Linked DNA regions of Homo sapiens. The protein of the gene in region 2 purifies or fractionates together with the protein of the main gene of each other region. This does not show direct contact. Each region holds a gene or a part of one and is shown on either strand. Other genes may lie near its edges. The genes, in order: HIP1R, CDHR2, TMTC2 and TBCD.

Region 1 (3,587 bases), on a different chromosome or scaffold from region 2:
GCCCACACTGGCCTTCTCCCATGCCAGGGGTAACTGGCTCCTACCTGGTGGGCTCTGTGCTGAGAGGCTCAGGCTCAGCACATCTCTGCCAGGACACAGAGCCTGGTAGCCCTGTCCTGCTGCACAGTTGGGGCCACACCTTTGGACACCTGCCCTCTGCTCTCCATGTCAGATCCTGAGCAGGCTCTTCCCAGGCACAAGGGTCCAACTCTGAGCCCACCTCCCACCCACTGGAACTGAATACCCATCAGGCTCGCCCAGCTGCACTGGCCAGACCTGGGGACTCAGGGAGGCTGCCCAAACTGCCTCTAACTCCCAATTTTCCCTTAAGGAGGCATTTGCTTCTTGCCCTCTTATGGAGAGCACTGAGTCACCCATGAGTTGTTTTGAAGCTGCCACCCAGAACAATCAGTTCTCCAGCCTGGAAGCTGAGCCCTCTGAGATTTCCTGTCCAACAGCGGCCGGGTTCCCTCGCTAGGAAGTCTGACGTGACTCAGAGGCTTTCTAGAGCAGAAAATGGCAGGACGACCCAAACCTTTCTTCCAGCTGGGCTCTGCAGATGGCCCAAGGCTGGGGCAGGAACCTGGCAAGGTGGCTCCTGTGCACACCTCCTCACCCTCCCTGTCTTGGGGCTGATGGAGTGACACTCACTGGATGGAAGAGATGGCTGAACCTGTATCCTGGATGTACCCGCTGGGGCCTGCCATGCTTTGGAGGGGCCAGGAGGCCCCATTACCTATCCCTGGAGGTGCAGGGACCCCAGGAGGGGCAGGGGCATTTCTTTTTCTTTTTTTTTTTTTTAAGACGGAGACTCACTCTGTTGCCCAGGCTGGAGTGTAGCGGCATGATCTCCGCCGCCCAGGTTCAAGTGATTCTCCTGCCTCAGCCTCCCAAGTAGCTGGGAATACAGGCGTGCGCCACCACGCCTGGCTAATTTTTATATTTTTTTAGTAGAGACAGGGTTTCACCATGTTGGCCAGGCTGGTCTTGAACCCCTGACCTCAAGCAATCTGCCTGCCTCGGCCTCCCAAAATGCTGGGATTACAGATGTGAGCCACTGCGGCTGGCCAGGGTCATTTCATAGTGATCAGTTGGTCTGATCACTCATGTCTTCTTTTTTCTTCTCGTCCCATCTCTGGGGACTTAGCAATACACTCAGACCCCCGCATCCCCTCTTTACGGCTCACCTGATTCAGAAAGCTTCAGCTCACAATCCATGTAATCAAACATCTCCACAGTGAGCTGGAAGCTACGCAAGAGAAGTGGGGGAAGAAATGAAAAAGGGTGGGTGGACCCACCCACTCGTCCTGAGACGCCCCCTCCAGTGGGGACGGGGGCACCGCCGACACCATGGCTCTGGTGAGACAGCGTGCCTCTGCCAGGACGACAGTCCTTCAAGTACACCCCACCCTTTTAACTTCACCCTCTGTCCCTGGGAGCGTGAGCATCAACCAACAAAGCCACGGACTCATTCAACCCCACTGCCCCATGCGGACGCCTGGGCGTGAGACGCGGTAGGAAGGAATGGGGAAGCCGAGGGGAACTGGCTATGTAGCCATGCAGAGTGACTCACATGTTGTTGACATCGGTCCCAGCTGCCTTCTCCAGTACCTCATCTGTCACCTCCAGGCCCGCGGGAAACTGGGGATGCTGTGGAGAGAACCCCCACCCAGCGGCCACTGAACCAGGGCCCCCCCACACCTGGCGGCCACCGAACCAGGGCTCCCCCCCACCCAGCGGCCACTGAACCAGGGCCCCCCACACCCAGCGGCCACCGAACCAGGGCCCCCCAACCCAGCGGCCACCGAACCAGGGGGCCCCCCCACCCAGCGGCCACCGAACCAGGGCCCCCCCCACCCAGTGGCCACCGAACCAGGGCCCCCCCCACCCAGCGGCCACCGAACCAGGGCCCCCCCACCCAGCAGCCACCGAACCAGGGGGCCCCCCCACCCAGCGGCCACCGAACCAGGGCCCCCCCCACCCAGCGGCCACCGAACCAGGGCCCCCCCCACCCAGCGGCCACCGAACCAGGGCCCCCCCACCCAGCAGCCACCGAACCAGGGGGCCCCCCAACCCAGCGGCCACCGAACCAGGGCCCCCCCCACCCAGCGGCCACTGAACCAGGGCCCCCCCAACCCAGCGGCCACTGAACCAGGGGGCCCCACGCTGGACCCTGCTCTTGGCAGACCCAGGCTGTGGCCCACATAGGTGGCAGAGGGCAGTGGAGGGGTTGGGAGGAGGGGAGCACCCGGCCAGCACAGCAGAGACTGAGGAAGCCCAGCGCTCATGTCCACAGAAACGCCTGGGGAAGCCCGTGCCCACGTCCACGGAAATGCCTGAAGTGTTCTAGGAGCTTCGTGATGCCCTGGCTTCCCCGTCTCCCCTTTAGTCATAGTTGGGACAAGAAGGTGAATGGAAAGACTCATGGAGAGGACAGATCCCACCCTCGATGTCCCAACATGTGCCATAACGTCACAGTGGGAAAAGCCCACGGGTCCCTCAGCCCCATGACTCCCCCGAGGAAACCACCTTGAGGTGGAAGGAGATCTTGGTCAGCAGCAGCTTGGTGTAGACATTCACCAGCTGTCCGTAGCGGTCATGCAAATGTCCCTGTGTGAAGACAGACAGGGTGAGGGGCCACGGCTCGTGAACACGTCCAAGAGTCCTCAAGGACCTGGGCACGAGAGTGACCCACCACCGGGCACTTCTTCATTCAACAAACGTCTTCTCCTGGCCTCCACCAACCACCCTCTCTGTCTCTAGCTTTTTCCCTTAATCTTCCTCCTTGTCATTCCTGCCAAAGAAACTCTTGTGAGAAGAGAGCTCTTTGTCCAGGGCGGCAGGCCAGTTCTGAGCAGGGACGCTTTATTAAAGTGCTGGTGCTGGCAGGGAGGCACGTCCCGACGGGCGCCTGGACACATCCTCCCTGCTCCCTCCTCCAGCCCCACGGCCCCTGCGGCCGGGCCAGCTGGGCCTGCATCTGCAGGTGGCACCATGGGCAGTGTTTTCCTCGCTTCAAGGGAAGTGAGTCCGGGCAGTGGTTCTGGGTTGGATAACGCCCTGGTCAGGCCTCCCTGTGGGTACCCGGTCCAGGGCCTGCCCTGCTCCTATGTCCCTGCCCAGGCAGACGAGCACCCCACAGTGCTCCAGAGAGAACCAGGCCAAGGCCCTCTGCCCACCAGGGACATCTCTAACTCCTGAGGTCTTGCAGTGCATCCAGATTGCAGGCCCCCCAGGGCTCTCAGGCCTTACTGTGTGTGTGCTCAAAATGCAGACCTCCAGTCCTGATTCTTCAGCAGCAGGTCTGGGGGAGCCCAGGAACCTGCGCCCTGCCACAGGCTCTCTAACCACCGAGGTGCCCGGGCTGTGGTCTTGCCACATTTCCCAACTCGTGAGGACTAAAGGGCCCGGGTGACTTCGACGCTGGAGGGCCCACTGGTTATGCGTGTGGAGCGCCCTGGGCCAGGCCCTCAAAGGCAGGCAGCATCTCCCCGTGCTGCCCCTCCCACTGTCGCCCCTGGGAAAACCCAGCCACCCGCAGGGAACTGCCCACAGGGAGCCACCCTTCGCTCAGCCCCACACGCTCA
Region 2 (3,587 bases):
GCATGTTACTTCCTTGAGTGCACTGAGGAATCAAGTCTCATGCCCTTTCACAGATAAGGAAACTGAGGCCCGTGGAGGGGAGGTGACTCACCCAAGATCTCGCACTGGGTCACTGGGGAGTGAATGCATGTATACCTGTGCCTAAGCCCCAGCTCCTTCTACCCCTACCCCCCGACGTCTTGGGTGGTGGGAGAGGGTGAAGGTTGGAGACACGGGGGCAATGGGAGCCGCACCTCTTCCGCACACACACGAAGGCCATGGTCATGATCACAAGGACCAGCAGCAAAGCCACTCCCAATCCTATGATGACACTGATGAGCTGTTTCGACAGGTCTGACTCCTGGCTCTCCTGGGAGCCCTGGAGAAAGATGAGTGTGAGGGAAGCACACTCGTCTTCAGCAGCCCCACCTGCTGCCCCGCCCTGCCCGCACTCACCAGCACCACCAGCCCCAGCTGCAGCAGCTGCGTCAGCGAGTCCTGATCATTCCGGATCATCCTGGCCACAGAACTCCACTTAGGCCCGAGGGACCTTGGCACACCCCAGGCTTCCTGCTCACCCTCACACCTGCCCCAAGGGCAGCCCCACTCACACACTCAGCTCATCAAGGGTCAGGGCTGACCCATTGGGGAAGACAAAGTAGGCATCGAGGTAGGAGTGAGGTCGGGCCCTGGAGCGGGACAGAGTTGAAGAGTCAGGAGCCTGGATCACCCAGCAGGCCCCTCCTGCTACCGCTTCTCCCCCTCAACCCCACCCCCAGGCCTCTGGGCACTCACCGAGCTGCAGAATCTATGTCCTGAATGTCCACAATGTATACTGTAGTCCTGGTTGCCTGGGTAAGAGCCCTGCAAAGAAGGCAGATGTCACAGAGGCCTGGGGTCTTAGCCTGGGCCTGTGGCCAGGGCTGTGCCAGTGGGATTAAGAATTGTATGAGTGAGAAAGGGCACCTCCTCTGGACAGCTCTGTTGGCTGAGTAGGTAGCATCTCTGTGAAAATTACAAAAGGAAATCCCTTCCTCTGGGGCTGGGTGAATAGCTTAGCAAGCAGAGTGCCCTTGTGCAACACACAGCCTTCACAACTGTACACGGCAGCCTTGTTCCAAGGCTTCCCTCTGCCCTTGGCTGGGTATGGGCTTCTGGGGACATGCAAGAACGTCGTGCAGGTGAAAGTACAGGGTTGAAGACAGGGACAAGGTCAAATGTGGGTCAGGAACAGGATTGAGAGACATCCCATCCAGGTTTTGTCGGGGACCAGGCTCCTACACCCTGTTCTTCCTACCCCTCCCTCCGGGGCTCCCCAGACCTACGCATTAATCGCCTGTCTGTTGGCGCCCACCTCCTCCTTCGGTGTGGAGAACTGCAGCCGCGAGCGGTAACTCTGGTCCACGGTGAAGAGCTGGGAAGGGGGTGTGCAGGAGATGAGGCACCAGGGACCCTGGGGGCTGGCAGAGGGCGTTGGGGGCTGGAGGTGGGACCAGCACTCACATTCAGGGTGGTGGTGGCTTCCAGGAAAGGACCCAAGGAAGGTCTGTCCCTGGCCTGGACTGTCACTTGGTAGGTGCCTTGGAGAGTGGAGTCGAGGCTGGTCACCGGCCTGCGGAAGGCGGGAGGCGCAGGTCAGTCTTGGAACCCAAGCTGAATCCTCAGGACCCTTGTAACCTCCAGGATGGGGGACTTGCTGCCTGAAAGCTCCTATCGGGCCCCTCCCCGCAACCTCCCTCCCGGGGCCGCCCGCAGTTACTGAATGCTCCCAGCGAACACGTCGGCCTCGGAGGAGGTGAAGATCGAGAAGACACCCTGGAAAGGGATGGTGGCCCCGTCCTTAGAGATGAAGTCTACTCGGAGGATGGAGAACAGGATGACGCCATTGTTCCCTGAATCATCGTCTCTGGCCTGGGAGCAAGAGTGGACAATATCTGGGGGCCCAGCCAGGCCAGGCATCCCTCCACCCCAGCAGGGATCAGAGGCAAGGGTGGCCTGGGAGGCTGGCCCTCACCGTCTCTATCCGCCATCCCCACGCTGCCCCGAATAAGCAAATGGTTTCAAAAAACAGTGTGTCTGCTCTGCAAATCCAGATTTGGACAAGAACCTGCCCCTGTTCCCCAACTCCAAACAGATCACTGCCCTAAGTCCCTCACATGTGGAAATCCTGCCCTGCTCCCCCTACACCCCTCCACTGCCATACTCTCTCTCTCTCTCACACACACACACTCACACACACAGTCTCTCTCACATACACACCCTCTCACACACACACACTCTCACACACTGTCCCACTCACACTCAGTCTCACCCTAACACACACTTACACACATATGCACACACACTCATACACACCCTCACACACACTCTCACACACTGTCCCACTCACACATACACTCACTCACCCTAACACACTCACACACATGCACACACTCATACACACCCTCACACACTTATCCTCTCACACTCACATACACTCACACACCCTCTCACACTCACACACTTATCCTGACACACACACTCACACCCTCACTCTCTCATGCACTCACCACACACTCAATTCACACACACTCACACAAATACACTCAATTCACACACATTCACACACTTGCACAGTCACACACATACACACCCACAATCACCTACATACCCACACACTGTCACACACATTCACATACACTCACTCACCCTTATACACACCCTCAGGCACACACATTCACACTTAGACACACACACACTGGCGTGCACACACACAGCGATGCTCAGATTTCCTAAGCACCTCCCCTGGGATCCCTCATTTCCGTGCGGGGAGTACCAATTCCCCTAGTAGACCATGAAGCTGGTTGGGGAGGGGACACAAGCATTTTTATTCATTCTAGTGCCTTTTAGAGAAAAATTTAACCAGCACACAGAGCTTCGAGTTCACCAACGTTACTGTTAAGGATAGGCCAACACCAGTGCTTAGGTCTTAAAAAGGAATCTATTTAAAGAAAATTGCCGTGGCTAAACTCTTGACATTAGAACCAAATTGGCAGAAGATTGGGAAGCTGTCTTAAGACTTGAAAGTCACACAGTCACTGTCTCTAGCATGAACGTCAACCTAGAGAGGGAGAATTACTATCCCCATTTTACAAGAGGAAGCTGAGGCTCCGAGAGACCCTGTCCTTACACTCGGCTCTAAGTGGGGAAGGCCAGCCCTGTCCATCTCTTGTACCCATGTCCTTTCCAAAGCATAGGGAATGGCACCCACATGCCACCTTCTGGGAACTGCTAGCTTCTTGTTGAACAGGGAAACGGAGTCCCAGAGAGGGTAGGCAGCTCTCCAGGTCAGTAAGAAGCCCAGCCAGGCCCAGCCCTCGGTGGTGTGGGAAGCCTCATCCCCACACGGCATGGCCACCACCCCTAATAAACTTGCCACATCCAACACCATAAACAGCTGAAAGCCTTTTTATGACTTGGCTCCAATAATTTATTTATTTATTTATTTTTTTTTGAGGCAGAGTTTCACTCTTGTCGCCCAGGCTGGAGTGCAATGGCGTGATCTCGACTCACCGCAACCTCCGCCTCTCGAGTTCAAGTGACTCTCCTGCCTCAGCCTCCCAAGTAGC
Region 3 (4,060 bases), on a different chromosome or scaffold from region 2:
AACTAATTTATCATCACACTCACACCATTCTTCCAAGTTACAAGGTCCAGTCCTAACACTTCTGATGACTCAAGAGCACAGAACAATTATACCTATAGAAAAATGCATATCCAAATTTAACCTTAATTTTTAAAGAATGGCTTCTTCTGATGTGTATTTTCTTAAGGATTAGACAGCAATGAACAAGGGCATACAATAGGAATACTTGATTCACCACCGTGTTCTATAACAAGTTGCATTATTATAATAAGTTTCTTTTTTTAAATAAACTCTATATTCTTGGTTTAAATGCTTACTATTCAAACTGCCCCCAAGAGCCAGTAACTGCCCACACTGACCCAAGGTGGTTTTAGTGAAAAGTCACCCATCAAGTTGCATTATTATAGTAAGTTTCTTTTTTTAAATAAACTCTATATTCTTGGTTTAAATGCTTACTATTCAAACCGCCCCCAACAGAGCCAGTAACTGCCCACACTGACCCAAGCTGGTTTTAGTGAAAAGTCACCCATCTTTGGAAACAAGGGCTTTTTCCACGAATATGCTAGAAATAGCAGGTGCACCATTACACAAAATTGGAGAGAACAGAAATTTACCTCACTCCTACAGACCATTTCTCAGAGCATGCTGTGTAGTTGCTAAAATCAGTATGCTGCGTAAAAGTTAAGAAAAAATGTATGTCTAACAGTGGTTCCCTATCAACTAGCCTCTGGTAGGCACTACATAAAATGCATTAAGACGGGTTTGCTGGATGTTCTGGCACCTATTATCAGGTGATTTTTTAACAGAGATGTGAAGATGCTTTTAGCAGGAGAATGGGCACACCAGAGAATACAGAATGTGGCTAATTACGACGAGAAGAAGATTCTGCCTTCACCTCCCCTCACTGTCAACCACTTTGCGTAAGTGCTCTCACTGCCTCGCCCTAACCCTGGGGATCCATTCACTTTTCATAGCTCAGAGAGGCTGCTGAAAAGCTGTCAAAGTAAATCTGTGCTCACTTTTTGGATGGTTTAATTTCAATGGAGCATGAAACACCCCAGGACGGTTAATAAGTTTAGCCAGGCGTGCTGTTATCCCTAATATATTTTAATTATGCATCTGTTTTAATTGTAATCAGATTAAGACACCGGAAGGACACAAATTGGAATTTTCCCTAATGGATATAGGGGCTTTTCATCACTTTCTGAACACTAATAACGTTTAAAAGATAGGAAGAGACACCAACACAACGGTGACATTTTCCAGAAATCGATGCAGTTTCTTTGACAACACAGTTCAGGTCTCATTAGCCACCCAAACTAACCTAAGTGCAGAAGACAACTTCAGTCTCTAGGGGCGTCTTCTTCTCCAATTAGTACAAAAGAACCACTAACATCTAATGTACAACTCCCAAACAGAAATGAGAAAGCCGAGGCTTTTATAAAGTGCTGCCCAATGGATTGGTGAAGGAGGCTAGGGCGGCGGGAGAGACCATCAGCAGCATTATTTTGGCTCAAAGTAAAAGTCTATACACGTTAAAAGGGAAAGTTAAAGCAGAGAACGATCTCCCTTTTCACAATTTTGGCAACTATCAAACGTGTGTTTTAACTTCGGGAAATAAAAGTGTCCCATCAATAAAAGGAAACGGGACAGGGAGGATCTATCAGGGATCGAGGAGAGGCTTCCTCCCAACCAGACGTAAAATCACTTAATGTGCTTTGTTGCATCAAGGAATACCTAAGACTTTAATTTAATACGTTCATTAAACAGTTTCCCAAATTGCCGGGATTTCCGCTAAGAAACTCAAGCGTCTGCCAACAGCCGAGAAGCAAGGGAGAGAACCTGCTGCAAACTAGGAGCGGAAACTCCCTCGGCCCGCCCAGCGCGCCTCACGTCCCCGGTGTTTGATTTAGGTGTTAATGTTTACGTGTCGCCTAAACCATCAGGTGCTGAACCAGTTCCTCCAAGACGCACTTTGAGCCTTAAAGAGGGAAGCTTCAGAGCCACTGCGGAGTGTGCCCCCTGCAGCCCGTCGCCCCCTCCTCTCGGCCCCTTACCTGTCATCATAGCAGAAATCCGCACTCAGGGTGTTGAGATACAAGGCGAGCCCCAGAGCGCTGCTCACCAACTCTGCAATCATCTCTCCACCGCCTTCCCTCCGGCTCGGCTCCCAGCGCGAGGGCAGCAGCGGCAACAAAAAACAGAAGCATCAATCTCCACCTTCCGCCGCCTTCTCCTCCCAGCTTCACTTTTCCCTCGCTTCCCCACCCTCCCTCCCTCGGGTCCTTCCAATCCACGACTCCTCTCCTCCTCCTCGCGCCCGTCTCCGCAGCTCCTGCGTCCTCCCCGGGTGCGGGCTCACACCACACTCCCCATGCCCGGCGCCCGCAAGCGGTGAGCGGCGTTTGGGCTCCGCGTCCCCCGGCGGAAGCGCAGGGCTGGTCTTTCGCGCGGGTCGCGATCCCCACCCTAACCCATGGCAGTTTGGGGCGTCCTAGGTGAGGAGTGGGACTCGGAGGAGGTGGAAGGGTGCGGGATGGGGGCAGAGGGACCGGACCAAGCCGGGCTCTGGGACCAGCTGGAGGAAGAGAGAGAAAGAGGCGCGGGTGGGAGGGACAAGGCGAACCGCCTCCCCTCGCCGCCTCCCGGGCGCACTGCTCCGGTGTCGCTCGGGCGGACTCCGGCCGCCAAGGCAGCTGCTGCACATTCAATGTTTATTAGCTCCCTCCCAGCCCCAGCCCCAGCCCCAGCCCCAGCTCCCTTCTCCAGTGAAGTGAGAAGCGGTGGCTGGAGACTCCAGAAGCTCCCGCGTGGGGTTCTCGACGCGGCCCCCCGCGCCTGCGTGACCAACCCTCCATCCCGGCTTGGCCCAGCCCCTTTCTCCACCCAGATCCTCCCGGAAGGCTCCTCCTACCCTGCCCCTCGGGCTGGAGGCTCCTCCCACCCTCCCCGGCCTGGAGGCTCCTCCTACCAGCCTCCCGTCCTCTTGTTTCTTTCACCTTCGATTTCACTCTGGAAAGCCCCCGGGACCCAAGGGCGACGGCTGGAAGACAGCCCAAAGGAGTAGATACAGTGCACCCTGGGAGGGGAAGCTGGGAGAAAGGAGGTCGAGGAGGAGGTGGTCGGTCGCCCCGCTGCTGCCTGGCAGCGCCTGGCACGGCTGAATCTCAGCCACAGCGCTGTGTGTGCCAAGAGCTGCCAGGCGTAAGTCCGGTCAGCTGGAGAGACTTCTGAGACCGGGAGAGGAAGAACAGGTTTGGCGACTGCTGCAGCTTCGGTTGTCACAAACTCACTGGCGATCTCTCACGCACACTGTGTGTGAGACTAAATGGGGGGGAGGAGGTAGTATTGGAGAGCTTGGAGGCAACTTAGGAAGGAGAGATTTCAGCTCTTAGCCTACGGTTGGCCACAATGTCAGTGGAAAGACGTGTAGGGAGAGAAACGTTTCCTCCTTCAGTAAGGTTAAAAAGAAAGGACCCCAAAAAGGGAAAGAAAGACACACACACACCCCGCAGCAACTGCCCGGGGACCCCTTCGTGGTTTCAGAGGGACTGTCGGGTTGACCCTGAGAACACAGGAGAGAAACCTCTAGTGCAAGCCGGTACAGCATTATACTTAAACCTAGTAAGGCAGTAAGCTAATGCCCTTTCCTTTCCGCTCGGAGGCAGGACTGGATGGAAAGCATCCAACATGGTGAAATATGGTGTAGAATGGTCTGTGTAGAACAAGCTCTGGGTACTAAAGTTGCAAGACCAAAGAGGACCCAGGGCTGCCTGACACGCCTCCTCCCGGCTTGTTGGCTTTCTGGCCAGGAGAGTAGCTCCGGTGCACCGCGATGTACACTACTGCAGCGCCCCCTGCTGCATAGTAACCACAAGGTGTGGAAGACAGGTCTGTTTTGCATGCGGGCCGACTGGTTCCAACCAAGAGCAGCACCTAACCAGCAAGCTCTCCGAAACTGTGGCAAGAAATTGAGCCCCCTGGGTGTCTAGCAGTGGCCTGGAAAGAAAATACCGTGGTCTGGGCTTCTGTAGAACAAAGCTACATATTTCCCTGATTTCACAAGGAAATCTGAGAAATC
Region 4 (3,587 bases), on a different chromosome or scaffold from region 2:
TCTGGAAGAGAGGAAACCTAGGAAGTGAAGAATCATAAGTCCTGCCTCTGAGCAAAAACATCCCCCTTAGCGTTCATCTGCTGGCCTTTCAGAGACTTACGACTTTAGGGAGGAACTGTTGGGACTCACCTCGCAATGGCCTTCAAGCCGTCTCTCCTGGACTCAGCAAAACTTACGTCCTCGGGGGAAGTGTGGGTAACTGCTCTTAAACCTGTGAGAACCTGGAAAGCAATAAAGAATCACAGAAGAACCATAAGCTATAACAAAGTGCACTCTTTAGGGAGGTGGCAATGTTGGCCCGGAGCCACAGACCCCACACCATGAGATAGGCAGCTCCTGGCACCACCTTCCTCACGGCCATCCATGGCCCCTGGTACAACCCAGGAAGGACACCCGGGGAGAGGTCACCTCCAGCCTCTCCACGGCCCCCAGTACAACCCAGGAAGGACACCCGGGGAGGAGTCACCTCCAGCCTCTCCACGGCCCCCGGTACAACCCAGGAAGGACACCCGGGGAGAGGTCACCTCCAGCCTCTCCACGGCCCCCAGTACAACCCAGGAAGGACACCCGGGGAGAGGTCACCTCCAGCCTCTCCACGGCCCCCAGTACAACCCAGGAAGGACACCCGGGGAGAGGTCACCTCCAGCCTCTCCACGGCCCCCAGTACAACCCAGGAAGGACACCCGGGGAGAGGTCACCTCCAGCCTCTCCACGGCCAGCCCCCACCCCAGGGTGTCACTGGGGGTCTGGCCACACCCTACCTGAGGTCCCCCCCTTTTGTCCTACGCTGAGACCTGGGGTATTGACAAAGGAAGCTGCTGGGTCCCGACAACCTCATCTGTCATATCTCCAAGTGATCCTGTTTCACATTTATCTGTGTTTCAACTGGATAAACCCCCACATGCGAGTTTTAGATGGCATGGCGGCTGCGAGGCCCACCCGCCACACAGGCAGGAGTCCGTCTGGAGCTGCAGATCCTGAAGTGCCAAGGCTGGATCCCATGGGGAGGGAAGGGCGTGGGGAACCCAGTGGCCAGGGCCTATTCCAGCTTCAGACGCCAGGTGGCCGGAGGGGAGACAAGCAGGAGTTCCCGGCAGGTTGGTCAGTGGGACCAGCACCACAGGAAAGCGTGAGAGAGCAGGTCACTGAGGCCAGCGTGGGGCTGACCTCTGGGAGGACGTGGAACCACCTCTGCCCCGACCTGGATGCAGGATGCACGGCCGCAACCAAAACAGGACCCGGCTCCACAACGCACAAAGGCAACTGTGTTCTCCTCACTCTCGGCAGCTGCTTCTACAAACAACACCTTCTCCTCCCTCCCAGAATTCAGCTTTTTCAAGTCTGTCCTCTGACAGCAAAGGGTTCGCCAGGGCCCTAAGGGGCCACAGACCTTGGGTGCCCTCTGCCCCCTTCCTCCTGGCCACAGGTGCCGGTTTCCAGGAACCCCCTCCCAGCTACAAGCACTGATGGGTTTATTAACGGCTGGGCCTACCTCATGCCCCAACACACGAGGCTCCCACACCCTCGCCCTAGGCCCCGTCCACTGCGCGTGGCCAGCCTCACCTGCTGGAGCCGGCCTTTCAGAAGGAAGCCTGGAAGGGCGCCCAAGGCCAACGAGAAGCCACAGCGAGTCATCTCCTCGGGGTTCCGAAGCTCAGCCAGGTACTGCGTGATCAGCTCCTCTGAAAGGAAGCAACGAGTGTGAAGAGAGGCCCTCTGCTGCCCATCGTGTACAGCCACACCCGACGTGTGCCCCAAACAGGAGCAAAGCCACAGTGAACAAAGGAGGAGCCGCCTGAGGTTCCCAAAGCAGACACGTTTCCAAAGTGGCCTACCTCAAAATAGGAATCAGAAAGAGAATTTTTTTTTTGAGAGAGTCTCATTCTGTCACCCAGGCTGGAGTGCCGTGGTGCAAGCTTAGCTCGCTGCAGCCTCAACCCCACACTCAGCCTCCCAAGTAGCTGGGATTACAGGTGTGTGCCACCATGCCAAGCTAATGCATGATTTTTATATACTTATAATAATTTTAAGTGGTGATTCACACACTTTTGACGTGATTAATAATGCATGTTCTATCATATGACATAAAGGAACACTGTGGGCCAACATATGTGCATGTGACACTTTAAAAATAAAAGTACGATTCATGAAGCAGATCCCTCGAACATGATGTGCGAGAAGCAAGCCTGAACTTCAGCACGGGGGTGCAGGATGTACAGTGAGGCGGCACAGCAGCTACGCACGGGACACGGCGTAAAGCCAGCCTAATGCTACTTTCATAAAGAAGGAAAAAACAGCAAAATGTATTAACGAGTGAAACACACAGCAGAAAAATGTCACGGTGCATACAAAAATTCTAAAAACACTGACCGAGTGCAGTGGCTCACACCTGTAATCCCAGAACTTTGGGAGGCTGAGGCAGGTGGATCACCTGAGGTCAGGAGTTCGATTCCAGCCTGGCCAATGCAGTAAAACCCCGTCTCTACTAAAAATACAAAAATTAGCCGGGTATGGTGGCAGGCACCTGTAGTCCCACCTACTCAGGAGGCTGAGGCACAAGAATTGCTTGAACTCAGGAGGCAGAGGTTGCAGTGAGCCGAATCACGCCACACCACTCCAGCCTGGGTGATGGAGCAAGAGGGTGCCGTCAACAGAGACGCGTCCCTGCTGAGCCACCTGTTCAGAGCTGATGCAACATCCTGGGCAGCTGCAGGACCTGCCCACAGCTCCTCGGCTGGGAACCTGAGACCCGAACAGTCCCACTCCAGCCATGATCGTGGTGGCTCTGCTCCACTGCACAACCGAGGCCTCCTCCGTGCCCAGACACTCCCCAGCAGCTTCCTGCTGGAAGCCCCTGGAGTCTTCAAGAAAAGGGCTCCCCACTCACCCTGAATTGCGGGATCTGCCTCCCCCGGCTCCTTCATGTAATATTCACTGCATAGAGCAGCCAGGGCCGAGACTGCTGCATCCTAAAACAAAGGCAGCACGGTGAGCGCACAGCAGCTCTGCTCGGAGAAGCCCCCGGCCAGGGACAGAGCAGGTCACTCTGAAGTCGGAGAAGCACCTGACCAGGGACACCGTGGTCACCCTGAGGTCAGAGCAGCCCCTGCCTGACCAGGGACCCAGCGGGTCGCCCTGAGGTTGGAGAAGCACCCGGCCAAGGACACAGCAGGTCACCCTTGAGGTCAGAGAAGGACCTGACCAGGGACACAGCGGGTCACCCTGAGATCTCGGCACAGCAATGACTTTCGAACCAAACCAAAAGAACCCCTAAGTCATGCTACTCCTTTCCAGCACGCCTGCTCACCATCATCTGTCAGATACACGCATCACTTTACTACCACTACAACTAAGAAACTGAATGGATAACCTGATTATTCCTTCCACAATGTCTGTCTTCTAATATGGAACAATAATAAAATGGAGCATATTTTTCTTTCCCAGAAATAGTTATGAAGAAAAAGGCATACACTATGCACCCAGAGTAACGGGGCAGGGCCTTCAGGCCAAGCCACGTCAGCCTCATTTAGAGAGACAGGGCTCCGGGGGCGCACTGGGAACAGGAGTTGGGGCCGGACAGCAGGAGA

The links.
Region 1: the proteins of CDHR2 (region 2) and HIP1R purify together in Homo sapiens (affinity purification with mass spectrometry; one large-scale study listed by BioGRID and IntAct). This does not show direct contact.
Region 3: the proteins of CDHR2 (region 2) and TMTC2 purify together in Homo sapiens (affinity purification with mass spectrometry; one large-scale study listed by BioGRID and IntAct). This does not show direct contact.
Region 4: the proteins of CDHR2 (region 2) and TBCD purify together in Homo sapiens (affinity purification with mass spectrometry; one large-scale study listed by BioGRID and IntAct). This does not show direct contact.

What each region holds. Positions count from the first base shown.
Region 1 is NC_000012.12:122,848,898-122,852,484, reverse strand, and holds part of HIP1R (huntingtin-interacting protein 1-related protein), read right to left. Parts: intron 2,611-3,587; coding exon 2,530-2,610; intron 1,651-2,529; coding exon 1,574-1,650; intron 1,250-1,573; coding exon 1,188-1,249; intron 1-1,187. UniProt on the Homo sapiens protein: Component of clathrin-coated pits and vesicles, that may link the endocytic machinery to the actin cytoskeleton. Binds 3-phosphoinositides (via ENTH domain).
Region 2 is NC_000005.10:176,587,334-176,590,920, reverse strand, and holds part of CDHR2 (cadherin-related family member 2 precursor), read right to left. Parts: intron 1,891-3,587; coding exon 1,739-1,890; intron 1,592-1,738; coding exon 1,483-1,591; intron 1,394-1,482; coding exon 1,305-1,393; intron 844-1,304; coding exon 775-843; intron 669-774; coding exon 591-668; intron 497-590; coding exon 436-496; intron 359-435; coding exon 234-358; intron 1-233. UniProt on the Homo sapiens protein: Intermicrovillar adhesion molecule that forms, via its extracellular domain, calcium-dependent heterophilic complexes with CDHR5 on adjacent microvilli. Thereby, controls the packing of microvilli at the apical membrane of epithelial cells.
Region 3 is NC_000012.12:82,685,646-82,689,705, reverse strand, and holds the start of TMTC2 (protein O-mannosyl-transferase TMTC2 isoform 1 precursor), read right to left. Parts: upstream 2,801-4,060; 5' UTR 2,120-2,800; coding exon 2,037-2,119; intron 1-2,036. UniProt on the Homo sapiens protein: Transfers mannosyl residues to the hydroxyl group of serine or threonine residues.
Region 4 is NC_000017.11:82,923,034-82,926,620, reverse strand, and holds part of TBCD (tubulin-specific chaperone D), read right to left. Parts: intron 2,970-3,587; coding exon 2,888-2,969; intron 1,683-2,887; coding exon 1,564-1,682; intron 222-1,563; coding exon 130-221; intron 1-129.